Linked DNA regions of Homo sapiens. The protein of the gene in region 5 interacts with the protein of the main gene of each other region in a pairwise test. Each region holds a gene or a part of one and is shown on either strand. Other genes may lie near its edges. The genes, in order: MYT1L, PNISR, CEP85L, EIF4G3, PCNT, NIPBL and RRBP1.

Region 1 (4,563 bases), on a different chromosome or scaffold from region 5:
CACAGGAAGCCACAATCAGCTGCCATTAGCACATACAGCAGAACAGTTTCATTCTTGCCATCCCTTATAATCATTTCCCCCTCGCTCCTGCAACTGGTGATGAGCAACGCTTTCCACGACCCAGACAACAAACAGCTGGATGGATGCCAGGAGACCATACATCCGTGGTCTACCATGCCCTTTTTAATCAACTTCCTAATTAAAAAATGCCATGCTGGCATGAGGTATGAAGGGAGTAGGCTTGGAATATATTTTACAAAATAGCATCCCCTAATCCTGGGGTTGTTGAAAATCTGTGTTCTTACAGATGTTGATGAGTTCTTCTGGTGCAGAGATAGAATCAATTTGCCTGTGCCTGGCCCTCAAGACATATTAAATTTATCCTGGAGGAAACTGGATTCTGAAAAGCTCTTGCCCAGATGCATTAGGGCAGGTGGGAGTTTCAGAGAAGCACAGGGTCCACCGGCAGATGCGGCACTGATTTCCGAATGTTCACAATCTACCAGGCAGCTCCAGAGCAGACTCGGTTTGATGGCTCTCTATGGGGTGCCCTGCAGACTCGCTTATTTCTACAACCAGTCTGGCTAGCATTGTTTCATGGCGACAATGCTCTGTGCTTTCAGCTTCTGTTCAGATGGCACAGGCTGGTGGAATTCGTGCACCAGGGAGGGGAGGTTGGGCCGAATTTAAAGTAAGCCCTTAAGAATGGTTTATTGCTTTTAGGGTTCAGTGGTGTGGTAGCCCCTGGAGTCAAGAGGTGATGCCGACTTTTGAAAAACCATTCTGTTGAGGGCCATTAAAACACACTATGCATTTAGGTTGAGATAACGGCATGAAGGCACCACTCAGAACAGTGTTTGAGCTAGAAATCCTATAATGAAAATCTTTGTCAATGTACTAAAAAAAAAGACCCCCATAAATTATTAATTCATGAGTTGTTTGATTTAGAGTCCTAAACCTGACATTCCACACTTGAAAATTTCTCAAGCAAGTGCCCGATATCCTTGAGGTAATTTTCTTTAAAGAAATTGGAGTGTTCTATGTAAACAGTCAGACTTCAGTAAAAAGCAGTCAGTATGTAATATTGAGTCCTAAAGTTCTTTCAACTATATTAATGAGTGCACAAACACATCTAAAGCAGGTTTACATGGCACACATACTAACCCTATGGCTCAAATATTGTCAGCTTACACACATTTTCACACTGGCATTTAAAAAATACACATATACACGCACTCACAAAATCATGGAAGAGGGGAATTATAGTACTCCTAAGAGTGTGAAAATACATGACAGTACTGAATTTTAAAAGGAATAGAGTCAAATAACCTTTTGAATAAAAAATATTTACCTGTTTTTTTTTTTTCTTTCACAATCAGTGGAAACCCCACCAAAGCAATGCCCTCTATGGCTTCGGTGAGCAGAGCAGGCCCACTGAGACAGCAGACGCCCCACACTGTCCAATGTTGCCTACACAGGGTACTTAAGTCAAAGAGCACTTCATCTTTGGACTAATATCTTGGAATCACAACAATTGATTAAAAATTTTGCCATGAAAGGCTGCTTTTCTTTCCAAAGTTGACACTCAACCTTAAAGTGCAACTAGACAGGGAAAAATTCCCTTAGAAATCACCTTTTCAGACAGGTGCACATCACCCTGTTTCCAGTCCTGGGACCTTTCATTGTCTTTGCCCGTGAGCCTGCTCCACAGCCTGAGAACAAATGTGACGGAGAGTGGCACGCGGGGCTCCGTGAAGTGGAGACTAATATGACACAATTTTGACCCTAAAAAAAAAAAAACAAAATAGCTGGGCTCCACCTTTGAAGGCAGCCAGGCACAAAGAGCATCGTGGAGAAGGGGCTTTCAGGGATCTCTGCATAGAAATGCACAAGGTGAGGTTAAAAAGTAAATGCTGATATTTTGCCCCAAGAAAGTTATAAACCACCATCATAAAGCTAAAAGCAGCTATATTAATCATATAAAGCTTGGTTCAACTCTAAAATGAAATGTAGCAATGAGAAAATAATGGAACTATGACTTTATGACTTTTCTCTAGGTAAGATTTCATGAATCTGCTTGAAAACAATCTGATATTTAAAACTGCTTGAGTTAAATTTTTAAAAACTCAATTTTTTTCTTCATTCTAGTTTACCAGCAAATTTAAAAATGAAATAGAAAAAGAAATGTGTCTGTGTGTATAAACACACACACATTGAAAAAACAATAGATAATTTACCTATTATGCAGAAAAAGCTCAATGTGAGTACTAAGAAACTTGCAGAATGAGAGGGAAAATGATCAAAAGCAAGTTTCAGCAGCTTCACATGAAGGGTTAATATGTTTTTAAATATCTTGTGTTTGAGGTTTAGATTCATTAAAGGTGGTTTCTTTCTTTTTTGAAAAGATATATTTTTTTAAACAGAAAATTTTCCCCTCCCCCCAAAAGTTGTATTTTCTGTCAAATATTCACTGTTATTGTTTAAAGCAAACAGCTAAAGTAAAGCAACTCTTTAGAAAAAAAGCTTAAAATGAAAGCAAAATAAAATCAAGTGATCTAAAATATTCAGGAATCTATAAAAAGACAGTTAAAGAATAACAATTTCTACTTGAGTTCTACCTAAAAAGCAGGTGAAATAATTAGGTCAGTTAAAATGAAAAACCTTGCCTTTTCGGGAGAATAGGAATTATTAAAACAGGATAGAACTATTTATCAGTGAATTCCTACCATGGAAGTATAATTAACTAAATATTAAAACACCCATATTGCAGTAGTACAGTCACAGAATTATATAAGAAATGTGTCACTGATGACAATAGAAAATTAGGATTCCAGCAGGCTCTTTATTCTTACTTCTCAACTCAGAAGACTGATTTGCAAAAATGATCTCCATTTTTCTGAAAAGAACTCAGAGTATCACTGTGTGCTAATTTCCACATTTCCTAGTTGTAGATTCTACAGATCAATAGAAACTTCAGTTCAATTTTCACAATCTCCAGTAAGTTGCTGGTTAAATTAGCTAAAATCATCTTCCAGCTAGGAAAAATACATACTAGTCAAAACTAATTATGTCTGGGCTTTAATTGAAACAACATTTGCTAATTTTGCTGGTCTCGATGCACGGTTTCAGAAAATATTAATTAAACACATTGAATAATGGCTGCTGTAAGTTTCTAAAAACAGTCATCTCTAAACAGTTAATTTCCACTTCAGGCACATGCACACGAAGACGGATCAAGCCGCTACCCCAAACCGGCAGCAAATGACTATTCTTTTGTTACTGACCATCAGGAGTTCAACTTTGCTCCACTTTGGGAAGTGGAACAAATGCTCTGGTGAAGACAGGGAGCACAGGACATATTTACCTGGAGGGGATATCAAAGAGCAGCCTCAAGACTTGCAAAACAAAGTCGTCCCAATGAATTATCTGTGCCTACAGCCGCACTTGGCACCTTCGGCTAAGCCAGCGTCTGACAAGCAGTTGTTCCCACGGCAGCCACCCCTGCCTTCCATCTTAGGGACTCACCCAGAAAATTCTCCAACCTGCTCCACGACTACAAAACTCTTCTAATGCTTTTGAACGCCCACCATTTGTTCTCCATTCATCCAATCAACTTTCCACTGCACATCTTCTCTCTCTACCGGCGCCCAGGCAAGGGGCCACTTCTCATCTGTATGCTAATTATTTTGCCACATGGACAAAAGTAATAATGCTTTCAGACAGGAAACTAACAGGCCTGAAGTCGAAGATGGAAATTAATAAGTTGACACCACTAAACGACAGGGAAGACGGGCATGCGTACAGCGCTCTGCCGGGCGGGTGAAGTGCAGCCTCCATCAAAAGGCAGCAGACAGACAGCGCCGGGCTGCGAGTCCCGCCTGTGCTGCGTGCATCAGGCTCACGCTCCCTTAGAGACCACATCGCTGCAGCAGAAGAGCCTCGGAAGCATCCTGCTGACTTACCCTGTCTCAGGCTGCCTCCTTGAAGCAACACAAAACATATCCACTTCCCCAAATCCTAAGGTGGGAGGGAACTTCACTGCTGATCTAGATATTTTTCAAGCTACAGCTGTGGATTAAACCAGTAATTTCTAACCTTCCTGTGTATCAAGCTTGCAACACAGTCAGACACGAGTGGAGATGTGTGCAGTATGCTGCTTGCCTTGTACCCACAGGCCCCTAAATCTCTAGAGCAGAATGTGTATCATGAGCAGTGCTGTATTTAATGTAATAGATGAGAACTGTAAATACCGGAGTCAGGCTGTTAGCAGCTACCAGCTAGGCAATATATCTAAAAATATCTCTCGTATCATTGATGTTATGGTAAATTCATGCTGTGGCCAAAGAAACCTCACAGAAGTAAGCTGAACCTACAGTATTTTAGATGGCATTGCTGGTTAACATCCAAGCAAAACAAAAAGAGGTTCCAAAACCTGTCACTTCTTAAAATAAAAGAATGGTGACACAAGAGTTAACTCTAACCAATTCTTAAAATCGTTTTCGGGTTGCCAACCTCACTATATTATTCTGTTTCAGTATGAGCTTCTTGCATCGTTTTCTTTTA
Region 2 (4,563 bases), on a different chromosome or scaffold from region 5:
AAACTTTTATTGTTATTATTATTATTATATTTTTTTTGAGAGGCAGTCTCGCTCTGTCGCCCAGGCTGGAGTGCAGTGGTGCAGTCTGGGCTCACTGCAACCTCTGCCTCCTGGGTTCAAGCGATTCTCCTGCCTCAGCCTCCTGAGTAGCTGGGATTACAGCTGCTCGCCACCAAGCCTGGCTAATTTTTGTATTTCAGTAGAGACGGGGTTTCACTATGCAGGTCAAGCTGGTCTCGAATTTCTGACCCAAATGATCTACCCACCTCAGCCTCCCAAAGTGCTGGGATTATAGGTGTGAACCACCGCACCCAGCTGAAGCTTTTATTAAAAAAAAAAAAAAAAGTTTTCCTATGAACAGAGGTTTTAATTTGCATATTTTCAAGGGTTTGATTTGTATCACCTATGATCATTTTTCTGTATGTTTAGAACAGCCACTTCTACTTTTGCTATATTTTTAGAAGCTTTTCTTCCCCAAAGTTTTGATGGAAGCTACTATTCAAGTAATATAATGTTTGGGACACTTAGGCTGAGAAAAATAGAAAAAAGATGTGAAATTGGGAAAAACAGAGCAGAATAAAAATACAGTAAAGAAGGTGATGGTAAGTTAAGGAAGTTAGAGGCTATTTATTAAAGCGCTTTAATTAAGTCTGGAGTTGAGAAACTTGATTTAGTTACAGAGGATGACTACTGGATGAGGGCACAGGTGGAACACCAAATGGTTAGTCTTTTTAAAAGACAATTTACTGGCTGGGCACGGTGGCTCACGCCTGTAATCCTAGCACTTTGGGAGGCTGAGGCAGGTGGATTACCTGAGGTCAGGAGTTCAGGACCAGCCTGGCTAACACGGTGAAACCCGTCTCTATTAAAAATACAAAAAAATTAGCCGGACATGGTGGCACTGGCCTGTAGTCCCAGCTACTCCGGAGGCTGAGGCAGGAGAACTGCTTGAACCCGGGAGGTGGAAGTCGCAGTGAGCTGAGATAGCACCACTGCCCTCCACCAGCCTGGGTGCCAGAGCGAGACTCCGTCTCAAAAAAAAAAAAAAAAAAAAAAAAAAAAAAAAAAAAAAGGGCAATTTACCATTATGGCATCTTAACAAAACGTACATGCACATCCCTCTGACCCAGCAATTCCACCGCAGGGTCCTAAACCATGAATGTGAATATTCATACCATAATTCAAAAATTGGCAGCATATTTTGTAACAGTAAACATCTGGTTTCAGTGACATTAAATTAAAGGCAAGTTAAATAAGTTAGAGTGAACCATACAGTTGATTCCTATTCAGCCATTAAAATGAATAAGGTAGACTGCTACATACTGGCATGTATTACCGTACAAACTGCATTAAGCGAAAAAAAGGGACTACAATCTGTCCCTTTTCTACAAAATTTTAATATAAGTCCAAATTTCATTTTCATGACCAGAGTTACCTGTTTTGGATAAGATTATCAAAATTTACTCTAAATCCTATAAGAAAATGAGATAGAGGACATTTGCCCAATGTCTCACAGTTGAAGAAGTTTGTGTAATTTGTACTGCCTGTACTAGTCATTATGGACTGTGTTCATTAGCTTCATTTGATTCTTTGTATCTTTAAAAATCTGTATTTTTTCTAAAAATACACATTGACAGAATAAAATAATTAAAAGAATACAGAAAAATATAAAATAAAGATTAAAAATACCTGATTCCTATTTCCAATTCCTAGAGCTTGGCAGTTTTGAGAAGATTTTGTAATTTAGTAATTTTCTATACATAACTGCATTCTTTTTTTTTTTTGAGATGGAGTCTCGCTTTGTTGCCCAGGCTGGAGTGCAGTGGTGCGATGTTGGCTCACTGCAAGCTCTGCCTCCCAGGCTCACACCATTCTCCTGCCTCAGCCTCCCGAGTAGCTGGGACTACAGGCGCCTGCTACCACGCCCGGCTAATTTTTTGTAGTTTAGTGGAGACAGGGTTTCACCCTGTTAGCCAGGATGGTCTCAATCTCCTGACCTCGTGATCCTCCCGCCTCAGTCCCCAAAGTGCTGGGATTACAGACGTGAGCTATCGCTCCCGGCCCATAACTGCATTCTTAAAAAGAAAAGGCCTCAAGTGGCATCATTTTTCATGCATTGGGCAAATGTTCTCTGTCTCATTTTCTTATATGATTTAGAGTAAATTTTGATAATCTTATCCAAAACAGGTAACTCTGGTCATGAAAACAAAATTTGCACTTACATTAAAATTTTGTAGAAAAGAGACAGATTGTAGTAAAGACTTGTTTTAAAACTAGGAAATACTTAAACTTTTATATATGTTTCAGCACATAGCACAATGCTTGATAAGGAGTTTCATTAACTATTGTTTAATTAAACAGTAAGATTACTAGTGATTTTATGGCAAGGATTTAGGAACACTACTCTTTCTTCCTTCATCTTCACCATAGTATCTTCACTACTAACAAATCCAACAAATGCAAAATCTAGAAAACAGAAGGAATACACAGGCACAACACACAGTAATCAATGGATACATATTTTAAATTTCACTATGGTTTAACAAAATAACATAACGTTGTACCATTAAAAATGACATTTACAAGTTGGTTTAAAAATGATTTGGAAAATGTTGATAATTTAAGGATGGGCATTTGCTACCCTCTTCTTTACCACTGTTTGAAAGCTTTCATTTAATAAGTTAAAGATGACATACAATAATACTTTTTATAGAGGGTCTGCATTAAATTTTCATGTTTTTGTCTTGGCTCAAACAAAAATCTTCTTTAGGGGAGAGAAAACATTTTATAATAATTTAAATTCTCCATAATGTTTTGTCCATGTTAAGTGGTTAAATATTTATAATTCACTGAAATGTTAGCAAGTAAATACATTAATGTTCAACCATGAAAATGACATTCCAATATTGCTACTGTGATTTTATAATATCAAAAATTGATTCCAATTTATTCACTCTTCCTTTAGACTTAATTTTAAAGCTTGTTAGGCTTGGGTTTTCAAGTTTGGAGAAATTTGATTAATGACGGGCAAGGCTGCAAGACTTTCCTAACAGTATTTCCCTTCATGTGGTAAAGTGAACTGCTATTTCCTTGGAAAACAAATGGGGTCTGGGAAGAACAGAAAGATGAATAACCAAGGTTTGTATCAGATCATCAAAGCCACCACACACTGCCGCAAAAAAATCAAGTGATAGCTATCACCAGTGTTATGGAATGAATTGTGTCCCCATCCAACAGATACACTGAAGTCCTAACTCCTGATACTTGTGAGTATCAAGTGATACTTGTGAGTATGTCCTTATTTGTAAATAGGGTCTTTGCAGATGTATTCAAATTACAGTGAGTTCATATTTGATTAGGAGGGACCTTATTAAAAAGGAGACATAAGACACTTACAGGGAGAATGTAACATGACCACAGTGGTACAGATTGGGAGTAGATGGCTCTATAAGCCAAGGAACATCAAGGATTGACAAGAACTACCAAAAGCTAGGAAGAGACAAGAATCCCCTACAAAGCCATTAGAGAGCATGCCCTACCAAAACCTCAATTTTACACTGTTAGCCTTCAGAACTGTGGAAGAATAAATTTCTGTTGTTTGAAATCAGCCAGTTTGTGGTAATTTGCTACAATATCCCTAGAAAACTAATACAACCAGAAATGGCCATCATCTATTTTATCCTTTTCTTAAATGTATCTATATTAGAACTTCATCGCTTTGAGGTCCTAAAACAACTTGTTTAAATGACAATCATTTATTTATTATTGAGAAATTCTCACTCTGTCGCCCAGGCTGGAATGCAGCAGTGTGATCTCGGCTTACGGCAACCTCCACCTCCCAGGTTCAAGCAATTCTCATGCCTCAGCCTCCCGAGTAGCTGGGACTACAGGTGCATGCCACCGCGCGAGGATAATGTTTGTATTTTTTAGTAGGGATGGAGTTTCACCATGTTGCCCAGGCTATCCTCAAACTTCTGGCCTCAATGATCCATCCTCCTCAGCCTCCCAAAGTGCTGGGACTACAGGCATGAGCCACCCCGTGTGGCCAAAATGACAATCATTAATATTTACAAAAGTCACTCAGAGACTGTGACAGAGATGGATGAGAATTAAAATGTGGTATTTTAAAGTCCTTGAGCATCAACTACAAAATCAAAGAGCTACAGAAACACATCTATCATTTGATGCATAGGATGAAATATTTCTCAAATCAACCACAAAGCTGAGAAGCCAGAAAATACAACAATCCTCTTCACCCCTGACATTTCAGTCTTACATGAGTTGACTGACCTCAAAGTCAAAAAAGAATTTATTTGTTTAATTCAGATTAGGTGGAAATGGCACTGGTAAAAATTAATCTTGTAATCATTCGAAATACGGAAAACAGAAATTTTGCTACTTTATGTGACATGCATTTTAGTATATACTGAAATACTTGCAGCTTGTAGCTCAAAAGACTATTTTAAAAGTGGAGGACAAGCATGGCGGCTCATGCCTGTAAACCCAGCACTTTGGCAGGCCAAGGTGGGTTCATCACTTGAGGCCAGGAATTCGAGACCAGCC
Region 3 (4,563 bases), on a different chromosome or scaffold from region 5:
GGACCACAGGTAAACACCATGATGCCTGGCTAATTTTTGCATTTTTTGTAGAGAGAGGGTTTTGTCACATTGCCTAAGCTGGTCTCAAACTCCTGGGGTGAAGTGATCTGCCCACCTCAGGTTCCCAAAACAAAGTATTAGGATTACAGGTGTGAGCCACCATACCCAGCCTGTATTTTTCTATAATGAGATTTATTCCAAGGATAAAAAGAACTAAAAAGTAACTTTGAACCTCACTCTGTGGTTTTTATTGTTAGTAGCAATAGTGGTTTAATTACTTTGAAACTACTTTTTGCATATTGGTGGGGGGAAGCATCTATGTTAATGTTGATAGGAACCACAAACTTCGGTGCGAGAGACAAAGAAATAACAAGTATAAAATCAAAGAAGAAGAAAAAAAGAAAAAACCAACAACTCTGAATTGCTGATCCCCAAAACTGCTACCTTCTTATCTTGAAAACTGCTAATTAAAGGTAACTTTAATTAGCTTTCCAATTGGAACTGTATTTCAGAATAACTCAATAGCCTGGGGTGATTGGAAAAAAACTTTTTTATAGATGAATGCCAGCTAATAAATATAATAAATATATACTGTACTATAATTATGTGAAACTGTATTCTAAAACACAAAATAAATAAAGGTTTGTCTTTTTATAATAATTTTGGTAAGAAACAATGGAATTAATTAACAGGCATATCAAAATCATGTCTTTAATCTGAAAATGCTCTATTAATATCTATAAAATAAGCATTTTATAGTGAATCATCCTTTCAAAGCAAAATTGAATTTCTTCTACTCACTTCAAGCAATGCTTTTGTTAATCTCTGTACATTTCTTTCTTTCTTTTCCAGCTCTTCCATCATCTTTTGAGTGGTCAGTTTCTCTTTAGAAAGCTTTCCTTGCATAGACTAGAATTTTTAAAAAAATTGGAAAGCAAAACAGGTTAACATGTAAAGAAAAATCTCAAACAGAAAGAAGTAGGAATGTTGGCTCTGAATACTTTAAATCTTCTTTCCTCCCCATCCCCTTGGAAGATGAAGCCTTCACTTTTAAACTAATCCCTATCAGTTAGAGAGTGGCTGAATCCAAATAAAAAAGAAAAAGAAATGCTGGTTTCCCAGAATACATTTGGATTTTTTTAAATTACAGTTTTTACCAAGGAAGTTTTTAATTTGTATAAAACATGTCAAATCTGAAGTTCCTACTTAATATGGTATTACAAACAGTTCTTATTTCATTAACTTTTTATATGTAGAGAGTGTATTAGCAACAAATCTATATTTTTGTTTTACATTTTGCTTACAGTTAATGAGATGCAAGATAATAAGATCATGATATCATCCCTATTTTCTATCATTTGAAACATAGCTCCCGTCTTTCATTGTATAGTAATCCAAGCAGTGAATATACTGTGAACTCTGGGTCAAAGGTCTATTATGGGAATTTGATAAGCTAATCTCCTTCTTACTCCTTATAAAATTGCAAATTACCTAGACATGACACTATTGTGAGTACGCCAAAGCAGCATAAAGGACATTTTGAGTCTTTGGTTAGTCTTTTCACCAATATATTAAAAGAAAAAATTGCCATACACCCTGTAGTTATTAGTGAATTCTAAGTGTTTCTATCAACTATTTTCCTTTTATTAGACCACAAAATCAATAAACATATGACCAGAAGAGAGGTTATCATTTTATTTCAGGTCTGTATTTAGTCTCAATTCTGACAATACTTCAGTTTGCTGACCACCTAAATAGCACACAATCTACTATAAAGATATTTTCCTCACATTATCTTTGGATGGAGTAAAAAAAGATAGCTATCACCATGGGTTGAAATAAGACTCCATAAATATAAAGCAGTTTTATCAGTAACAGATACTCAAACTTGTTGCTTTTAAATTTCATTTGTCTGCTAAACTCTGAAAAAAATATTACATTTAGTAACTCAGAAGTTGGACAGAAATGAATCAAACTCTATAACAAGTGTTTCTCCTTCTAGGGAAAAGTTGTTTTATATTCCACAAAAATGAAAAAAAAAAAAGCACCAAGTCAACAAGGGGCTCTCTGAATACGTGTATTATTGAAAACTGAAATTTCCTTTGTAACTTCATTAGATTGACTCAAATCTTATTTGATTAAATGAACATGGAGAGTTATTTACCTAGCTGAAGATCTATCCTTTCTGGCCTAACAAGATTATTTGGCTGGAATCCAGAATTCAACCTAAATTTTCTCAAGATTTGTGACGGTTTATTAGAATTACAGAAGAAGGGCATCATAGACACACTACTCAAACTCACATTCTAACAAAAAAAAAACTAAACTCGAGGGGTGTTTTCACAATATAATTATTATATATAACAGAATAATTATAATAATGATACATTGTAACAGAATACAGTCCTTTAAAAGATAAGAGTTTTATATTTTTACCAATTCAGAGTCATGTTGAATGTGACTAATAATTAGCTAATAAATCCAACTAATATGTCCCTATGTAAGACTGATTTTAATCAGTGCAGAAACAGGCAATCTTCTCCATCAGAAAAACTGAAAATGTCTGGCAGTATTGCCATTTATCACAAAAAGGAAAATCAGATTTCTCATATGTTGCTTGAGTTGAAGGGCAGTTATCAAGAAGCACTTTAATAGGTAAAAGACATTGCAGATAGGCTTATCCTGAAAGGACCAAGTGCTGTACAAATTGGTCTAGGATAATACTAGGTATGAGTGCTATAGTTGTCTGACAGTAACATTTCACCTAAAACATTAATTACTTCTCTATCCTAAATTGTATTAAGATATGTTTAAAAGATAACAAGAAAAATTCTATCAAGAATACTGTGCGTTATTTTATAAATACTTTTTGCAGAGCATTTTTTTGAAATCTCTTAAGCTCTTAAAATATACTTGCTCAAACTGGTAGTACTTTACAATGCATAAATGAAATATCTCATATTTTCTGAAACGAGTGTTTGGCCTTGTGAATTTTACAATAACTATTTATCATTCACTAGACATGTAGGGGATTAATAAAATTAAAAATTAATTTGCAAACACCTACAACAGCTCTCAAATTCTCAGTTTAATCATGACATTTAAAAATTCTGCCAAGGTACTAACCTACAAGGTCTTTATAATGATCATGTTTGAAGTTGAACAGTGGAAATAAGCACATTTGTTGTTTTAACGTAAGTATCCAGAAATGCCCCATTTACAAATAGCTTGAATGAGGGAAAACCAGGTGTGCCTTAGTCCAGATTCTATATAATCCCCAAACCCAATTTAAAAGGAACTATTTTGAAAGAAAATTTATGTTAACATTTTTACTGCATATATACACACATAAACATGCATACCATATAAGAAATTCACAGGGACATTCCTTCATGCAAAAATCATTGCCAAACACTGTTCTGTTCATTGAGTGATACATCAGTGAACAAACAGTCAAAACTCTTGGCCTTTGTGGAACTTTACTAGGAGAAAAAAGACCAAAAGAAATAAAATAAATATGCAAGTTACACAGTATCATGTATTAGAATTTGACTAGTGCTGTGGAGAACAGAGCACAGTAAGGGTCAGGAGACTGAAATCTCAGGTAAGCAAGGGCCTGAAGGAAGTGAGAGATTGTGTCCCAGAGATATCCAGAGTTCCTATCAGTACAAAGGTTCTGGGACAGATGGTGTCTTCTGTGTTTGAGAAAAAGCAAGAGAGCCAGGATGGCTGAGAATAGTAGGAGAAAGAGTCAGAGAAGGAAGACAGCATGCAGAACAGATTGTATAGGGCCTCAGAAATCAGTATAAGAACTTTGATTTTTATTCTGGAAAAAAAAAATGAGGATCCACTGAAGAGTTCTGAGCAGAGACATGATGTAATCTGATTTTTGTTCAAAAGGATCACTTAACCTAATGAGAGTATACTGTGCACAGGCAAGGGTAGAAGCATGAAGAAATAACCCAGATGAGAAAGGGAGACAGCTTGGAACAGGGTGGCAATGGAGGAGGCAAGGAGAAGAGGTCAGATTCTAGACATACTTTCAAGGTAGTAGAATTTGCTGTCAAATGTGAGGTAAGTGAGGAGTCAAGGATAAATCTAGGATACCTGGACTGAACAAATGGAAGGGCAGAGATGCCATTAATAGGAAATCTGAAATGTATAGCAGGGTGTTTATTTTGGTGGTGGGGAGATAAGAAATAAAAAAAAGAGCCTTTTTTAATGTTTCTAAGAATCTAAGACAATGTACAGCTCGAATTCCTTTCTTAAATTAGTTATCATCTTGTAACTTGATAAAACTTTAAAAACAATCTGCCTGGAGTTTTGCTTCTAGCATGACAGTGTGAGGAGCTCCACAGACCTACCACTCAATGAAATTGGTGAATATTATAATTAAAAATTTCTGGAAATGGTCCTAAGAGCATATAGCAAATGAAGAAACATTACTCAAGGAAATCTACTAAAACTCAGTAAGAAGAGTAAGAGACTGGTATTTGAAATAAAACTCTGCTTCACGAAAGGATTCTAGAGTAGAAAAATGAAACAAAACTCAACTCCATCTCT
Region 4 (3,500 bases), on a different chromosome or scaffold from region 5:
AGTAAATTTCATTAAATAAAATGTGATGCTTTATCTTGAGTTTTTATACAAGTAATACTTTTTAAAATAAAAATTATCTCCCCAAATACAAAAATATATAGAATAAAAAATAACATCAGTCCCTTTATAATAATTTAATTTTTAATTGTTTGCCCTTGTACTGTTTTGCCACTGTAATATATCCTTGGAAAAAAAGTTTTTTAGGGAACGAGAAGTGGTAGAAATGAAGGTTTTCCTACCTTAAAGAAAAGCCTCACTCTTAAACCAAGAATGGTTTAGCCTCAGTTTTGGTGAGCTTTTCAGTTGTATTCTTGATATATAATTTTTTGGTGAATAGATTCCTTCTCTTACTCCAAAACAGACTTTATGTATTGGATACCAAGTAAATAGTAGGTTTAAGTAAAAAAAGAAAAGAGACAATGTTTTTGGCATACCAGAATAAGTCTAATATATTGGTCTCTGTTCTGTTACCTGTAATTTAGGGTAAGACATTGAAAGAATTGGCCCAAGGCAATATGTAGTCTCTGATCCAAGAATTATTCTTAAAACTTATTTTTTTTTCCCCAGAGGAGAAGCCAAAACCAGATCCAGTGTTAAAGTCTCCTTCCCCAGTCCTTAGGCTAGTCCTCAGTGGAGAGAAGAAAGAACAAGAAGGCCAGACATCTGAAACTACTGCAATAGTATCCATAGCAGAGCTTCCTCTGCCTCCATCACCTACCACTGTTTCTTCTGTTGCTCGAAGTACAATTGCAGCCCCCACCTCTTCTGCTCTTAGTAGCCAACCAATATTCACCACTGCTATAGATGACAGATGTGAACTCTCATCCCCAAGAGAAGACACAATTCCTATACCCAGCCTCACATCTTGCACAGAAACATCAGACCCTTTACCAACAAATGAAAATGATGATGATATATGCAAGAAACCCTGTAGTGTAGCACCTAATGATATTCCACTGGTTTCTAGTACTAACCTAATTAATGAAATAAATGGAGTTAGCGAAAAATTATCAGCCACGGAGAGCATTGTGGAAATAGTAAAACAGGAAGTATTGCCATTGACTCTTGAATTGGAGATTCTCGAAAATCCCCCAGAAGAAATGAAACTGGAGTGTATCCCAGCTCCCATCACCCCTTCCACAGTTCCTTCCTTTCCTCCAACTCCTCCAACTCCTCCAGCTTCTCCTCCTCACACTCCAGTCATTGTTCCTGCTGCTGCCACTACTGTTAGTTCTCCGAGTGCTGCCATCACAGTCCAGAGAGTCCTAGAGGAGGACGAGAGCATAAGAACTTGCCTTAGTGAAGATGCAAAAGAGATTCAGAACAAAATAGAGGTAGAAGCAGATGGGCAAACAGAAGAGATTTTGGATTCTCAAAACTTAAATTCAAGAAGGAGCCCTGTCCCAGGTAAGCCATTCTGCCATTAATCTCGTGCTTGCTGAACATGAAGAAGAGGCAGTGTTTGAGTTATTTTTTAATTGGCTACTTTCCTTGACTTCCAGAAACATCGAATGAATGCTGAAATTCCTAGTCTGGTTTCTTCAGTGGTGTGTTTGTGTTTTAGTACAACCTGCAAAAGAGTTACTCCATTGTCTAAAAATGCAAATGAGAATTTCCAAATATACAAAATGCCTCCAAGGTATATGTCACGAAACATGTTGGGTTTTGTTGTTGTTGTTGTTGCTATTGCCTCATTCATATGAATTGGTTTCTCAATGCTTAATTTTGCTGCTTTGGGGCTAGAAAACAAAAAACCAGGATGGTCTATAGTCCCTAATTCTGTCTTCCTAGAATTTTAAAACCCAGTCAATCCTAAAGGAACTCTTCTATGCATGACCAGTTTTTAAATCTTGGATGTAGGAAGATAGCAATCAGAACATCAAAGGTTTATAACTATTTTTGAAAATATAATGCTGTTGTTGATTCACTTGCAGGTAAGCTTAACGTTCTCTCACTTTGCCTTTTGAAACAGTTTTATTTTTTGTGTACATTTTTACATGGTCATTAATATCCTTGGAGTATTATATTCTTCCCAGTTCAAATTATTTCTTTTTAATGTAGCATCACCTGGGACCTTAGGAACTAACCATTGGGTTATTGTAAGTTTAATCAAAAGTTATCTGAGGCTTATCAGCTATTCTAGGATAAGTTAGCCCATAGGAATATTGAAGTTTTGGCTTTGAACAATTCAGCACAGCCTATCTTCTGCAACATTGCCCTATGCTATATAATTTCCTTTCTCTGTGCCTGTCAGATTAAGTAATGCGTATGTAAATTGGGCTTTTTGATAAATGAGTGCTCCTCCAGCAGTTGATCCTTGACATGCAGTGAATAGGTTTTGGTCACCATCATCCTCAGTATTTTTGTCTATTTTGAGGTGTATAATAAGGAAATTTGACAAACCCAAAAGCTGATCCCTACTTTTGAGATGTGGCTTTTCTACCCAGCTCAGTTCTTGAGACAATTTCCTCATCAGTGTCTGTAAGAGGTGTCTGGCCTTTTGGAACTGCAGAACATCTTGTAGAACACCATGAGCCAGCACAGGAAAGAAAACAATGCAAGGCAATTGGAACAGTGAGAAATTTTTCATAAATCTTTGTAAATTACCTGTTTCCTCAACTATCTGGCTTCCATTGACATCAGTATTCATAGTGCCATCACTGTTTTAGGAAACTTGTTCCTTGGTGGAGAGATGACCTTAGACCTTGTTTTGTCAGTTACCCTTTAGAAAAACAGCCTTGGGGCCGGGTGCAGTGGCTCATGCCTGTAATCCCTGCACTTTGGGAGGCCGAGGTAGGTGGATTGCCTGAGCTCAGGAGTTCGAGACCAGCCTTGGCAACACAGTGAAACCCCATCTCCACTGACATACAAAAAAAATAGCCAGGCATGGCAGTGTGGGCCTGTAGTCCCAGCTACTCGGGAGGCTGAGGCAGGAGAATTGCTTGAACCTGGGAGGCAGAGGTTGCAGTGAGCCAAGATCGTGCCGCCACACTCCAGCCTGGGCAACAGATCGAGACTCCATCTCAAAAAAAAAAAAAAAAAAAAAAAAACTAAACAACTTGGTGTTGGTGTGGCTGTAGGTAAATGCCCTCCGAAGAAACACGTGTTTGTTGGAGAACAGTAATTTGTTTGACACTTCAATGTTCATTTTCATTTGTAGTGATACGATAGTTACAAAAATGAGAGAAACTAATGAACAAAAATGTTTTTAAAATGTAAAAGCAAAGAAAAACAAAACAATCATAGGAAATATAAGTTGAAGATACAAACCATACCTCAGAATTGAAATAAGTGTAAAGTGAAAAGACCATGCATCAAAATCATACTTCACTCATTTCTGACATATATTCTTTTTTTAAACATCAGTTTGCCACTTAGATGACCTGATATTGCAAGACAGTGCCCAGGGATGGATGGGCAAACAGAATTTTGGTTTAAATAATGTTCATACCATGGTACATTTGTTTGAAATGCAGATGCTCTCAATATTAGTATTGTGA
Region 5 (4,563 bases):
GTCTCAGCAGGCTTCAGCACCAAGCATGCTTCCGTGCCACCCTAGAGACCATAAAACACCTGCCCAGCACTTCTGGTGTTAGAGCCTCTGGGTTTCAGAGCCTGGAGGAGTAGTTGGGGCACATTTAGCAAACAGCAGGGAGGAGGGGGAGGAGGAAGAGCAGGGTGGGTGGCTGTGTGTCCAGCAGGAGGAGGGTAGGTGTCTGTGTGTCCAGGAGGAGGAGGAGCAGGGTGGGCGGCTGCATGTCCAGGAGGAGGAGAGTGGGCGGCTGTGTGTCCAGGAGGAGGGTGGGCGGCTGCGTGTCCAGGAGGAGGAGGGTGGGCAGCTGTGTGTCCAGGAGGAGGAGTGTGGGCAGCTGTGTGTCCAGGAGGAGGAGGAGGAGCAGGGTGGGTGGCTGCATGTCCAGGAGGAGGAGAGTGGGCGGCTGTGTGTCCAGGAGGAGGAGGAGGAGCAGGGTGGGCGGCTGCGTGTCCAGGAGGAGGAGGGTGGGCGGCTGCATGTCCAGGAGGAGGAGGAGGAGGAGCAGGGTGGGTGGTTGTGTGTCGAGAAGGAGGAGGAAGAGGAGAGTGGGCGGCTGTGTGTCCAGGAGGAGGAGGGTGGGCGACTGTGTCCAGGAGGAGGAGGAGGAGGAGGGTGGACAGATGTGTGTCCCAGAGGAGAAGGAGGAGAAGGGTGGGTGGCTGTGTGTCCAGGGAGGCTGCGCTGGGCCTTGGACTGGAGGAGGCGAGGTGCAGACAGTGCATCAAAAGGTGCCATCTAAGGCTGGGCGTGGTGGCTCACGCCTGTAATCCCAGCACTTCGGGAGGCTGAGGAGGGTGGATCACCTAAGGTCAAGAGTTCAAGACCAGCCTGGCCAACATGGTGAAACCCCGTCTCTACTAAAAATACAAAAATCAGCTGGGTGTGGTGGCGCATGCCTGCAGTCCCAGCTACTCGGGAGGCTGAGGCTGCAGAATCACTTGAACTCGGGAGGCAGAGGTTGCAGTGAGCTGAGATCGTGCCACTGCACTCCAGCCTGGGCGACAGAGCAAGACTCTGTCTCAAAAAAAAAAAAAAAGAGAGAAAAAAAATAAAGGTGCCATCTGCACCTGATGCGGCCTGAGGAGAGGGCAGCTCCTGCGCAGGTGTTTCCTAGGGGCACTGGGGACCTGCCCCTGGTGCACTGGGTGGGAGAAGCACCAGCACCCGCTTTTCTCGCTAAATCTCCACCCTGCTACAATTTGAGATGGTCAAGGTGCAACCTCCTTCCCCGGGGAAAAGAAGTGCCAGCTTTTTTTCAAGTGACAATATGGAGTGAGGTGAACAGATTACAAGAATAAATCTGAGGCCTTTCAAAGTAAAACAGACGCTGGCCATCAAAGTCCTGAGCTGAGGTGAGGCCCACGGGGGCGATGTGGTCCTCCCATGAAAAGACAAACCAGGACTAACCCTCGAGCACAGTTAAATCCATTTGGATCAATTACAAGAAAAAAACCCAACTGATTGTTTCTACAGAGTGGCTTAAATGAAGCACGTACGAAATTTCACAACAGTTATGGACAGCTCGTTACAGAACAGAAAGGATTCAGAGAACATGTCACTGCAGGCACGGACTGTGCTCCTCACCTCAGCAGAATACCCGCCTCTGCCCAGGGCAAGACCCACATGTTCTGCACCCAGCCTCTCCCAGGGGGGCCTCACGCCTTCCCCCCTCCCCACACCTTGCTGCCGCGTGTCCAGCCTCTCCCGGGTGGGCCTCGTGCCTTCCCCGTTCCCCACACCTTGCTGCCGCGTGTCCAGCCTCTCCCAGGGGGGCCTCACGCCTTCCCCCTCCCCACACCTTGCTGCTGCGTGTCCAGCCTCTCCCGGGTGGGCCTCGTGCCTTCCCCGCTCCCCACACCTTGCTGCCGCGTGTCCAGCCTCTCCCGGGTGGGCCTCGTGCCTTCCCCGCTCCCCACACCTTGCTGCCGCGTGTCCAGCCTCTCCCGGGTGGGCCTCGTGCCTTCCCCGCTCCCCACACCTTGCTGCCGCGTGTCCAGCCTCTCCCGGGGGGACCTCGCGCCTTCCCCCCTCCCCACACCTTGCCGCCGTCCTCCAGACTCAGGCGCATTTCATTTTTCACCAAGAGCAGCTCCGACTGCAGCTGCCTCTGGCAGACGGTGAGCACTGACATCACGCCTTCTTGCTTGCAGAGAGGTGCATCCTTCAACGTCACCAGGACAGGCTGCAGATCACCCTTGACAGAGGAGACAGAGGAAAGCTGAGCATGCAGGAGGCTGTTGCTGGGGCTGCCCCTCAGGTGGCCTGGAGCTGGGAACCAGTACGGCAGCCAGCAGGGATGCCAGAGGGAGGTGGCAGTGACATCCACAGCCGAGCACCTTGGTCCACAGCAGGCCACATGGGAACGGGGCTGAGGACCCAGCAGAAAGCTGCCCCGACCCAGGACGACCCCACAGAGCAAGGTGGACTGGGGCATCTGAGAGTGGGAGCCACTCTACAAAGACCCAGCTGGTGTGGGGGTGGTAGGCACCAAGTTCCCAAGGTTCTGCTCAAATACAAGTGGAAGCCTTAAAAGACGACTCCCTACAGGGCCTCCAGCTCCAAAAGAAGAGCTCGCTCGCCACATCTCACACAGGCACTGCTCATCGACAGACAAACCATTTGGTTAGAAACCAGAGAAGCAGCTTAAGCGGACCCTCCTCACATAGTGAGCTCCGTTTCACTGGACAGTCCCTATTATGTGAAAGAAAGAATTGTTTTTAAAAGCTTAAAACGATAAGCTTAAAATGGTACAAAACAGTGAAATCCTCAGCCCAGCTTCACTGCGTACTGACACGGAACAGGCCCAGGCTGGCCCGAGCTTCAGGCCCCCTTTCTCCGCTGTGTCATGAGCCACCATGACAACTGCAGCCCCCAGTGCCCAGCGCAGAGAGAAGTCATTGACATCAAAGGAGAAAAGGAGAGTAAAAAAAAATACCCTGCCATGGCCCGCGGGGGGAGCCCACCTGTGGGTCAGGGACAACCGGCTCCAAAGCAGCATCATGGGAGGCCTCCACGTCGCCGGTGACCTGGGCCTTGGCGCCACCATCCATGCGAGGCTGTGGGTGGGCCCCGGGCACCCGTGTGTGAGCTGTGGCTCTGCGGGCCTGCCGCCTGTCCAGCTCCACCTGGCACCTCAGGAACCGCTGGTGCAGCACCTGCAGCTGGCGGCTGAGGCGGGCACACTGCGCTCGGAGCCACTGCAGCTCGGGAGGCGCCGCCCCGGCTGCCAGGGGCTGCTGCTCCAGGGCGCGGCGGATGCGGGCCAAGGCCAACAGGACGGCCTCCAGCTCGGCAGAGTGGGCCGCCTTCCGCTGGTTCAGAGCGTCGATTTCTAAATTTCTCTCGGCAATCGTCGCTTCCTTTGCTTTCAGGGCCGCTTCGAACTCCTGGATCCGGGAGGCCATGTCTTCGACCTCAGCCTCCCTGAGGGCTACATTGCGCTCCAGCTCAGCCAGCTGTAGCTCCGCAGCCTCCTCTGCGCCCTGGAGGCGCTGCTGCAGGGCCTCCAGGGCCTGGCTGTGCCTGCGCTCCTGGTCAGCCAGCAGCCGGCTCAGGGCCTCCTTGGCTTCCAGCGCAGCCTCGAGCTCGCCCTGTAGGGCCTGCCCACGAGGGCCCCCGGCCTGGGAGCAGAGCAGCTCGCTCTGCAGACTGCCAGCCTGACTGTCGCTGACTTCGTGCACCACAGGCCCCATGAGGGACAGCTCGTGCTGCAGCTTCTCAATGACTTCATGGAGTTGTTCAATTTCCTCTGCTTTCTCCTTTTGTAATCGTTTCTGATTCTCTTGCAGATTTTCAATAGTGGCTTTCAGCTCTTCAATCTCAGAACTTCTGGTATATATGACCTGAAGAGAGAGGACATTTCAGAGGCAAATTAAATGTATCCACTTCCGAATGTCCCTACTTCAGGGCACGTTACATCCTGAATGCATTCTTGGAGTGAAGACTCCATAGCGTGAAAAACAAAGCAGCCATAGAAGCAAACTGCTGGTGCCGGATGCACTCCACACCCACCTTGGCTGCCACTGGGCCCTGGTGCACACCTTGTGCTCCACGTCTGATCGTGGGACGAAGCTCTAATGCAGTCATTTTCCATGCAAGGACATCTACAGAATGATGCTTTCACCACCCTTTAAATGTTATTTTGTTAATATTTAAACAACTTTGATTTGTTTGATTTTCCTGAAGGTGCATTAGATTTTAGGTGTCATTCTGACTCCAGGAGGAAAGTAAGAAACCTAGGCAGAGAATCTGCACCAACAAAGCGGTGAGCCGGGCACGCTCCCCTTCCATCCCAACACTGCTCGTGGTGACGCTGGTGATGAGGCGTCTCTGCCACTGCCACTCGGTGACACCAGGCATCGAAGTGAGTTTACTTGTGCCATGAAACATAATCCTCAGCCATGTAAGGAAATACGATTGTTTCCACTTTAAAGACAGGAAAATTGAAACTGAGATATTAAACATCTTTCTAAACCCATAAAAACAGTAAGTGGAAAATTAGGATTGAGATGTATGTCAATATAGCTCCAAACTCTATTCTCT
Region 6 (4,563 bases), on a different chromosome or scaffold from region 5:
TATATTTCCTGTTTGGTATATTGGCAGATTTGGAGCTCTTTATGGTTTTTGGCTAACAGTTAAAAGTAACCTGAGTGAGACTTTATGATTTGTAACTGGTTGCTTTATTATTAGGAAAAGAATCTGATTTATCCGTGACATCTATGAACATAAATATATGTTTGTATTTGGTACATTATAAGTTCTATTCATTTTATATTCTTACACTTATTTATATCCTTAAAGAGTATGCAGTTAAATTCTTTTTACTATATTTATTGAGATCTCTCAAGCATATTTCTTCAAACCTTACCTTTCAAAGTATTGTGTCATTCATGCTTACTATTTTATGTGTACATATTTGCATTTGCATTTTACTCCATTTTAAAAACATAACCTTAAAAAGATAAACAACGTCCATAGGGTTTTTAATAAGATAAGAATACATGTCTATTACTGATATTGATATTTATCTTTAAATTTCAGATAAGCCTTTGAAAAAAAGAAAACAAGATTCTTACCCACAGGAGGCTGGGGGTGCTACAGGAGGTAATAGACCAGCTTCTCAGGAGACGGGTTCTACGGGAAATGGGTCAAGGCCAGCATTAATGGTTAGCATTGATCTTCATCAGGCAGGAAGAGTGGACTCTCAGGCTTCTATAACTCAGGATTCAGACTCCATAAAAAAGCCTGAAGAAATCAAACAATGTAATGATGCACCTGTTTCTGTTCTTCAGGAAGATATTGTTGGAAGTCTTAAATCTACACCAGAAAACCATCCTGAGACACCTAAAAAAAAGTCTGATCCTGAGCTTTCAAAGAGTGAAATGAAACAAAGTGAAAGTAGATTAGCAGAATCTAAACCAAATGAAAACCGATTGGTGGAGACAAAATCAAGTGAAAATAAGTTAGAAACTAAAGTTGAGACCCAAACAGAAGAACTTAAACAGAATGAGAGCAGAACAACTGAATGCAAACAAAACGAGAGCACCATAGTTGAGCCTAAACAAAATGAAAATAGACTGTCTGACACAAAACCAAATGACAACAAACAAAATAATGGCAGATCAGAAACAACAAAATCAAGGCCTGAAACCCCAAAGCAAAAGGGTGAAAGCCGGCCTGAGACTCCAAAACAAAAGAGTGATGGGCATCCTGAAACCCCAAAACAGAAGGGTGATGGAAGGCCTGAAACTCCAAAGCAAAAAGGTGAGAGCCGCCCTGAAACTCCAAAGCAAAAAAATGAAGGGCGACCTGAAACACCAAAACACAGGCATGACAATAGGAGGGATTCTGGAAAGCCATCTACAGAGAAAAAACCTGAAGTGTCTAAACATAAACAAGATACTAAATCTGACTCACCTCGGTTAAAATCAGAACGAGCTGAAGCCTTAAAGCAGAGACCTGATGGGCGATCTGTTTCTGAGTCACTAAGACGTGACCATGATAATAAACAAAAATCAGATGACAGGGGTGAATCAGAGCGACATCGAGGGGATCAGTCTAGGGTTCGAAGACCAGAAACATTGAGATCCTCTAGTAGAAATGAACATGGCATTAAATCTGATAGTTCAAAAACTGATAAACTAGAACGAAAACACAGGCATGAATCAGGGGACTCAAGGGAAAGACCATCTTCTGGGGAACAAAAATCAAGACCTGACAGTCCTCGTGTTAAACAAGGAGATTCTAATAAATCAAGATCTGATAAACTTGGTTTTAAATCACCAACTAGTAAAGATGACAAAAGGACAGAGGGTAACAAGAGTAAAGTAGACACTAATAAAGCACACCCTGACAATAAGGCAGAATTTCCAAGTTATTTGTTGGGGGGCAGGTCTGGTGCGTTGAAAAATTTTGTCATTCCGAAAATCAAGAGGGATAAAGATGGCAATGTTACTCAGGAGACAAAGAAAATGGAAATGAAAGGAGAGCCGAAAGACAAAGTAGAAAAAATAGGATTAGTTGAAGATCTAAATAAAGGAGCTAAGCCTGTAGTTGTGCTACAAAAACTGTCTTTGGATGATGTTCAGAAACTTATTAAAGATAGAGAGGACAAATCAAGAAGTTCCCTTAAACCTATCAAGAATAAACCATCAAAGTCAAATAAAGGTAAGAATACTTCTACTGATGTCATTTATAATATAATCGATTTTAAGTGTTAAGATTACTAAGTTTTAAAAAGGAAATTTACAAAAATTAGAAAGCTACTACATGAAAATATAACATTTATGTCAAACAACAGGAAATTTTTTTCAGGAGTATAGATAAAAAGTTTCCAGTGAATTTTTTTTTCCCCACAGTTTTTTTCTTCCCACCCACTACTCAAGGTAGTTATGAATGTTACTGCTATTTGGTTACACAGAGATAAGTTATTTTGCTGTTTAGTTATTTCTTATATTTCTGAAATATGCTTAAGTGAATGTTGTATTAAAATAGCTGTCTTTAAAAACTCTCTATTTAAAAATGTCTTACAATACTACATTCTTACAGACCTGTGTCTGAGCCAATTATTGATGAATAATTTGTATAGTTTAGAAAGTTATATAAAAGGTTATTTTTCATTTTGTTGGGGAGATGGTTAGTTAAATATGTTTTATATTTTTAAAACATATCTTTTTGTCCTTGTTTATGCAAAGGTAATAGGGAATGGTACTTACTTTTTAAATTTGGTTAAATTGTAAGTTTGTGGGAGGCGGGGGACTGGTGTTATTTTTGCATGGTTTCTGAATTCTCTGGTTACTTGAGTAAAATTATTTCCAAAGGGAGAAGAATGTCTTAAGTGCCAAAAGATAATGGCCATTTGTGCAGAAGATATACTTCTGTATCCCTTTGTACACAAGTATTTAAAATAACTTTTTTTATTTTTAAATAGAGATGGGGTCTTGCTTTGTTGACCAGGCTGGTTTCGAACTCCTGGCCTCAAGTGATCCTCTCCTCTCAGCCTCCCAAAGTGCTGGGATTACAGGCGTGAGCCACCGTGTCCATACAGTCTAAATATACTGAGGTGTAGTGAAGGCAATAGAACTGAGAGTTTATTTAAGTTTTCCTTCTGTGAAAGAGAATTATTAAGAATTTAGATTTATACTTATATATAACCAAGTATATGAAATCTGGAATTGCATTGGCCAAGAGGGTAACCATTGCCTTTTTTGGCTATTTAAATTTAAGTTAACTAAAATTGGAAGTTCATTTCATTAGTAGTCACATGTGGCTGTTGGCTACCATATTGGACAAAACAGAACATTTGCATCATCACAAAGTTGTATAGCACTGCAGTGTATTAGGAGATACAAAAAGTGTGTGGTTATTGTTTTTCATAACATGCTGTTGTAGCTTGTCTACCAAGAAAGCTCTTTGAAAACATATTATAAAGAACTCTTTATTCAAAGAATGACTTGTGGCTAATCTGTTGTTATTCTTGCTTGGTCTTCGTCAACATTCATTTTTTCACTGTTAATTTATTTCCTTTTGTCTTACAATAATGAAAAAAGATTGCCTTCTGAGTCGCTAATATTTGTGTTCTTTGAGTGAAGCTTTTAAATTTTAAATTATGGCAATTAGACTTACCAAAAGTCAGTTAAGACATCAGCCTTAATTAATAAGTAGGCTTTTTTATTTAACTTGAATGCATCTTTTCAGAGTTACTTGTTAATATAAAAGAGGTTGTAGAATGTGGGGGTTAACACCACAATTGTTTTCTTTTAGGTAAAAATTTTCTTTAAAATTTTTTAGTGAAAGTTTGGGAGTAGCTTATATTTATAAACTAAAGAGTATGGCTATACAATTTTAGAAGAGTCAGGTGAAAGATGGAAAGTGGTACCCTCTTGTTCCTTTGATCTGGACCATCTTTCTCTCCCTCCCCTCTCAGCTTACCCTAGCCTTGCTTTCTAAACTCTGTTCTAACAAAGAGTCTTTTAAAACTCCTTAAAGAACATCCAGAAGTGAATATAGCTTTTAGTTAGTAATTGGTATATTATTTCACCTGGGTTTTTCACATGCAATAATATTGCCTATGAATATGTTTTTAGCACCAAAATGCGTTTCTGATAGTATACTTTTAATGCAGATGTATATACCTGATATGGTCATGTTAGTATGTAAGTAAGCTATCTGGGTGTCTGCCTATTAGAGTGATGTGTGTGTATGTGTACATGTGCATGTTTGTGTATATATACACATATATTAATGTAACTGCAATTACAGTAACAGTCCTTTTCATCAAAAAATACTATGTCAGTGCTTAGATGCATTTCAGGATGCCGTGTAGCTATCTTTTGGATTAATTTATTTATGTCTTAGGATCCATATCTTTTTTTTTTAGTAATGATCCAATTTTGGTTTTGTTTTAGATTTTTGCTACTCAGTTTAAATAGCAGAGTTGGGTAATTGTGGATTTTTTAAAATTGCATGTATATGAAGCACAGTTGTAGATTACTGACCCTTTGTAGTATATACTGGGATTTTCTTTGGAGATTCACAGAAAATCACATTTTGATGTGTTGATGATTTTCTGAGTAAAGGAGTTAGTCTGAATACTGCTGGGATACTTGTATGGTTGGTTCCTAGGGCCAAAATTGAAGA
Region 7 (4,563 bases), on a different chromosome or scaffold from region 5:
CATAAGTGAAACTGAATGAATGACAAACATGAAACAGGAACTCCCTGGACCAATTTCTACAGTAATATACACTAAACAGATAAAGGTAAACCAGTGCTTCATATGATCACATATATATCTATGTAATCCAGTGTTTATGTTAATGCTCTATAATGCTTTACCAAATGACTAGGGTGGCGCAGGGGAAGGAGAAGGCAGAAGAGGAAAGAATGCAACTGCTCCTTAAAAACACCTTCCTACCATCATTCACTCAACAAGCACAGATACCCGAGTCAGGCTGCACAAAAGCATCAGGTGAGGCAAGAACATCGAACAGGCTGACAGAACGCAGCCAGACAGTTAAGAAAGACTTGCCAACACGCAGAACTCTTCTACACTGTGTGGTGGACAGAATTATTGCTCCTAATTCCTCACCTCTCCTTGTGCTCCCATATGTTTAAGACATGCCAAGACACGGACCTGTTGCTCACTCCTCACCTCTCCTTTCTCACATCACCTTGCAGTCCCTTCTCCCTGGACACAGTGGACTCCCTGCCCCTTGACTCAGGCTCAGACACATCACTTGATCTGGTCAATGAAATGCTGACTTGAAATGCCCTTTTGTGCCTCTGTTGTAACTATGAAGGGCCTCTGCCCTGGAGGGCGCCAGAAGGACCACACATGGAACTGACCTGAGCTCAACCTGTAGCAAAGAGTCACCAACCCAGTTAAAACCAGATTGAGGCAGAGCCACCAACCGAGAAAGCTCACATCTGCCAACCTCCAGAAGCATGAGCAACAATAAATGACTGCTGTTGAAGGCCACTGAATTTTTTTTTGAATGTTTGTTACGCAGCCTTATTATGACAATAGCTGACTGATACAGGTGGCACTCCCCGAGAGAATCCATAAGTCATTTAAAGACAGCCTTTCCTTCTAAGTTCATAAAGAAATCAGTTACTTACCAGGCTCACCTTTTTTCTTTGAACCAGACTTCTTCTTGGCAGGAGCCTCTTGCTTTGGTGCCTCTGGGCTCTGGGCCACATCTGTATTTCTGCCCTGGACAGAAGCTGACTCTGTCTTTTTACCCTGATTGGCAGCTGCGTCTGCCTTTTTGCCTTGGTTGGGGGACCCTTCTGCCTTTTTGCCTTCACTGGGGGACCCTTCTGCTTTTTTCCCCTGGTTTGTAATACCCTCTACCTTTGTGCCCTGATTAGCAACCGAATCTGCCTTTTTGCCCTGGATGGGAGCTCCCTCTCCTTTTTTGCCTTGGTTGGGACTCCTTTCTGCCTTTTTGCCCTGAGCCCCTTCTGTCTTTTTACCCTGATTCTGGGCTCCCTCTCCTTTTTGGCCCTGGTTCTGGGCTCCCTCGGCCTTTTTGCCCTGGTTCTGAGCCCCCTCGGCCTTCTTGCCCTGGTTCTGGGCCCCCTCAGCCTTCTTGCCCTGGTTCTGGGCCCCTTCTACTTTTTTGCCCTGGTTCTGAGCACCCTCGGCCTTCTTGCCCTGGTTCTGGGCCCCCTCGGCCTTCTTGCCCTGGTTCTGGGCCCCCTCGGCCTTCTTGCCCTGGTTCTGGGCCCCCTCGGCCTTCTTGCCCTGGTTCTGGGCCCCCTCGGCCTTTTTGCCCTGATTCTGGGCCCCCTCGGCCTTTTTGCCCTGGTTCTGGGCACCCTCAGCCTTCTTGCCCTGGTTCTGGGCCCCTTCTACTTTTTTGCCCTGGTTCTGAGCCCCCTCGGCCTTTTTGCCCTGGTTCTGAGCCCCCTCAGCCTTCTTGCCCTGATTCTGGGCCCCCTCGGCCTTCTTGCCCTGATTCTGGGCCCCCTCGGCCTTCTTGCCCTGATTCTGGGCCCCCTCGGCCTTCTTGCCCTGATTCTGGGCCCCCTCGGCCTTCTTGCCCTGGTTCTGGGCCCCCTCTCCCTTTTTGCCCTGATTCTGGGCCCCCTCTGCCTTTTTGCCCTGGTTCTGGGCCCCTTCTACCTTTTTGGCCTGGTTCTGAGCCCCCTCGGCCTTTCTGCCCTGGGTTGGGGCCCCCTCCACCTTTTTCCCCTGGTTTGGGGTTGTATCTACCTTTTTACCCTGGTTCTGGGCCCCCTCCGCCTTTTTGCCTTGGTTTGGGGTTCCTTCTGCCTTTTTGCCTTGGTTTGGGGTTCCCTCTGCCTTTTTCCCTTGGTTTGGGGTTCCCTCTGTCTTTTTGCCCTGGTTTGGGGTTCCCTCTGCCTTTCTGCCCTGGTTTGGGGCTCCTTCAGCCTTTTTGCTTTGATTCTGAGTCCCCTCCGCCTTTTTGCCCTGAGTAGTGCCAGTGGCTGGTGTGTTGCCCTTGGCACCCACTGGGGGCACCACCACCATCGGCACCTCCTTGGGAGCAGTTTCCAAGATGGCAGCCTTCGAAGTGAGAACCTGGATGGAATTCACTACAGAGCTGACAGCTGGTTCCACTTTTGCCACTTTTTTCTCCTTCTTCTTTTTGTCCTTGGGGGAGGAGGCCAGCTTCTCCTGGGGCATGGCTGGAACTGTGGCGACAGGAGCAACGATAATGGGGGGCTGCACTGGGGTTGGAGCCACAGCCACAGCAGGAGCCCGCACTGGTTCTCGAAGGAGGACAGTCACATTGGGGGCTGGATCATGATCAGGTATCTTCCCATTAGGTTTCTCTTCCTTTTTCTTGGTCTTTCCTTTCTTCTCCACTGTTTTCTCCTTCTTTTTCTTCTCGACTTTCTGGTGGTGAGTTTTCGCCATCTCCTTGCGCTGGTTGGCTAGGGCTTCTTCATATGACGTTTCCTTCATGGAGAAAGTCGACACCAGGAAGATGCCAATGGCAGAAACAACCATGAATCCTCCAAAGACCACAACCCCCAAGGTTTGAGTGTCGTAAATATCCATCCTGGCTTGCTTTCCTTTCACCTGTCAAACATACATGGAGGTTACTATTTATAGAAATCAAGGCCTTCAACAGTTTCTATCCCCACCCTACCACCAAACTTCAGGTTTCACTAATTCTTTCTTCAGGCTAATAAATTCAGAGAAGAAACAAACCCAGGCACTCTCTGATGTCCCACATTCTCACCTGCTCCTCTTTAGGAGTGAGCGATTCGTACCCAAGGCATGAGCAGTCCCCATACAAAGCAACAGCAGAGTCAGAGCAGAGTGGAGGCCTATCTCTGGAGCACACACGCCCAGGAGCCTCAGCAGCCATGACCCTGATGCAAGATATTCCCCACCCAAGGTCAAAGATGCACAGGAGCACAAACACAGGCCAGGTGTGAGACCATGGGGAGTGGTGGAGACTGTAGTAAAAACACCCGCCCCCACCTAAAATTAGACAGTGACACTCTGTCATGGCCGATTGCCCTAGAAATGTGATTGCTGAGTTGGAAGATGTTTTGATTTTTCATGTTAGGCCAGACACTTTTAAAAAATTTTTCTCTCAACGTGAAATTGACTGATTTAAAAAATATGTGAACCGAACCAAACCAAACACATCTGCAGGCTTTCAGCCACAAGCATTTTAGCCAGCAGGCCCACAGTGTGCCATCTCCACTCTGTTGTTTCCCTCTTCCCCAGTGCCAATAAATGCTGCTACCCAGGATCAGAGATAAAAACTTCTGCATTACAATCCTGAAACGTGTTCAAAAATTCAGTGAGGGAAAATAGCCTTTTGCCAGCAATAGCTCCTGAGGAGTTATGGAGCCTGCAATTTGCATGTTGGGAAACAGGAAGAATCAGTCTTGGGAGGCCCAGAAGATGCCAGGTTTGGAATTTCACATCCAGAAGCTGCACAGAGGGTGAGGAGACAGTGTCAGCAGGCCCCTCTGTCAGACAACACTCCCCAAACCATAAGAATGAACAACACCATTCTCACTGCCTATGGACCAAAGTCCAATGGGTCAGAGGCATCCAGGTTCATACACCTTCCTGCCACAGCCCGGGCTAAGTTCGACTTCACTGAGGAACTCCAGGAGGTGTATTTATTTGGATACATTCAAGCCAGTCCCGAGTCTCTCTAAAGAAGATCGATGGAATGAGCAAAGAGAACACAAGGGTAAGAAGGGGTGGTTAAGGGGAGGTAAAAGGAGGTGGAAGAGGAGAGGAGGGGAAGTGGACAGGCCTCCCCCAGCATTGCCCTGCAAAACCTCTAGATGCTGTGGGAGACTGGGTCCAGGCTGCTTAGTGGCTCAGATACTGAGATTCTTCTCCTAAGACATTGAGATCCCCACTCCTCTTGAGTGGTTATAGAGGAAGGAAACAGAGTAGGAATCAAATCCAAATTTTGACATGAGGGCATTTTAAAGAAGGGACTGAGAAGGGAGACTGTTTTCAATGTCTTGGCATTGTGTTCTAAGAAAAATCACTCTCGGCCGGGCGCGGTGGCTCACGCCTGTAATCCCAGCACTTTGGGAGGCCAAGGCAGGCAGATCACGAGGTCAGGAGATCGAGACCATCCTGGCTAACACGGTGAAACCCTGACTCTACTAAAAATACAAAAAACTTAGCCAGGCGTGGCGGCGGGTGCCTGTAGTCCAGGCTACTCGGGAGGCTGAGGCAGGAGAATGGGATGAACCTGGGAGGTGGAGCTTGCAGTGAGCCAAG

What was found.
Region 1: the proteins of PCNT (region 5) and MYT1L interact in a two-hybrid assay, tested with the Homo sapiens proteins (one large-scale study listed by BioGRID and IntAct).
Region 2: the proteins of PCNT (region 5) and PNISR interact in a two-hybrid assay, tested with the Homo sapiens proteins (one large-scale study listed by BioGRID and IntAct).
Region 3: the proteins of PCNT (region 5) and CEP85L interact in a two-hybrid assay, tested with the Homo sapiens proteins (one large-scale study listed by BioGRID and IntAct).
Region 4: the proteins of PCNT (region 5) and EIF4G3 interact in a two-hybrid assay, tested with the Homo sapiens proteins (one large-scale study listed by BioGRID and IntAct).
Region 6: the proteins of PCNT (region 5) and NIPBL interact in a two-hybrid assay, tested with the Homo sapiens proteins (one large-scale study listed by BioGRID and IntAct).
Region 7: the proteins of PCNT (region 5) and RRBP1 interact in a two-hybrid assay, tested with the Homo sapiens proteins (one large-scale study listed by BioGRID and IntAct).

What each region holds. Positions count from the first base shown.
Region 1 is NC_000002.12:2,320,807-2,325,369, forward strand, and holds part of MYT1L (myelin transcription factor 1-like protein), read right to left. Parts: exon of another isoform or gene 3,213-4,563; intron 1-3,212. UniProt on the Homo sapiens protein: Transcription factor that plays a key role in neuronal differentiation by specifically repressing expression of non-neuronal genes during neuron differentiation.
Region 2 is NC_000006.12:99,418,119-99,422,681, forward strand, and holds part of PNISR (arginine/serine-rich protein PNISR), read right to left. Parts: intron 1-4,563.
Region 3 is NC_000006.12:118,469,736-118,474,298, forward strand, and holds part of CEP85L (centrosomal protein of 85 kDa-like), read right to left. Parts: intron 910-4,563; coding exon 802-909; intron 1-801. UniProt on the Homo sapiens protein: Plays an essential role in neuronal cell migration.
Region 4 is NC_000001.11:20,939,398-20,942,897, reverse strand, and holds part of EIF4G3 (eukaryotic translation initiation factor 4 gamma 3), read left to right. Parts: intron 1-567; coding exon 568-1,407; intron 1,408-1,502; coding exon of another isoform or gene 1,503-1,522; exon of another isoform or gene 1,523-1,654; intron 1,655-3,500. UniProt on the Homo sapiens protein: Component of the protein complex eIF4F, which is involved in the recognition of the mRNA cap, ATP-dependent unwinding of 5'-terminal secondary structure and recruitment of mRNA to the ribosome. Functional homolog of EIF4G1.
Region 5 is NC_000021.9:46,410,489-46,415,051, reverse strand, and holds part of PCNT (pericentrin), read right to left. Parts: intron 3,864-4,563; coding exon 2,985-3,863; intron 2,216-2,984; coding exon 2,060-2,215; intron 1-2,059. UniProt on the Homo sapiens protein: Integral component of the filamentous matrix of the centrosome involved in the initial establishment of organized microtubule arrays in both mitosis and meiosis. Plays a role, together with DISC1, in the microtubule network formation.
Region 6 is NC_000005.10:36,984,211-36,988,773, forward strand, and holds part of NIPBL (nipped-B-like protein), read left to right. Parts: intron 1-465; coding exon 466-2,091; intron 2,092-4,563. UniProt on the Homo sapiens protein: Plays an important role in the loading of the cohesin complex on to DNA. Forms a heterodimeric complex (also known as cohesin loading complex) with MAU2/SCC4 which mediates the loading of the cohesin complex onto chromatin.
Region 7 is NC_000020.11:17,657,652-17,662,214, forward strand, and holds part of RRBP1 (ribosome-binding protein 1), read right to left. Parts: intron 2,878-4,563; 5' UTR 2,857-2,877; coding exon 945-2,856; intron 1-944. UniProt on the Homo sapiens protein: Acts as a ribosome receptor and mediates interaction between the ribosome and the endoplasmic reticulum membrane.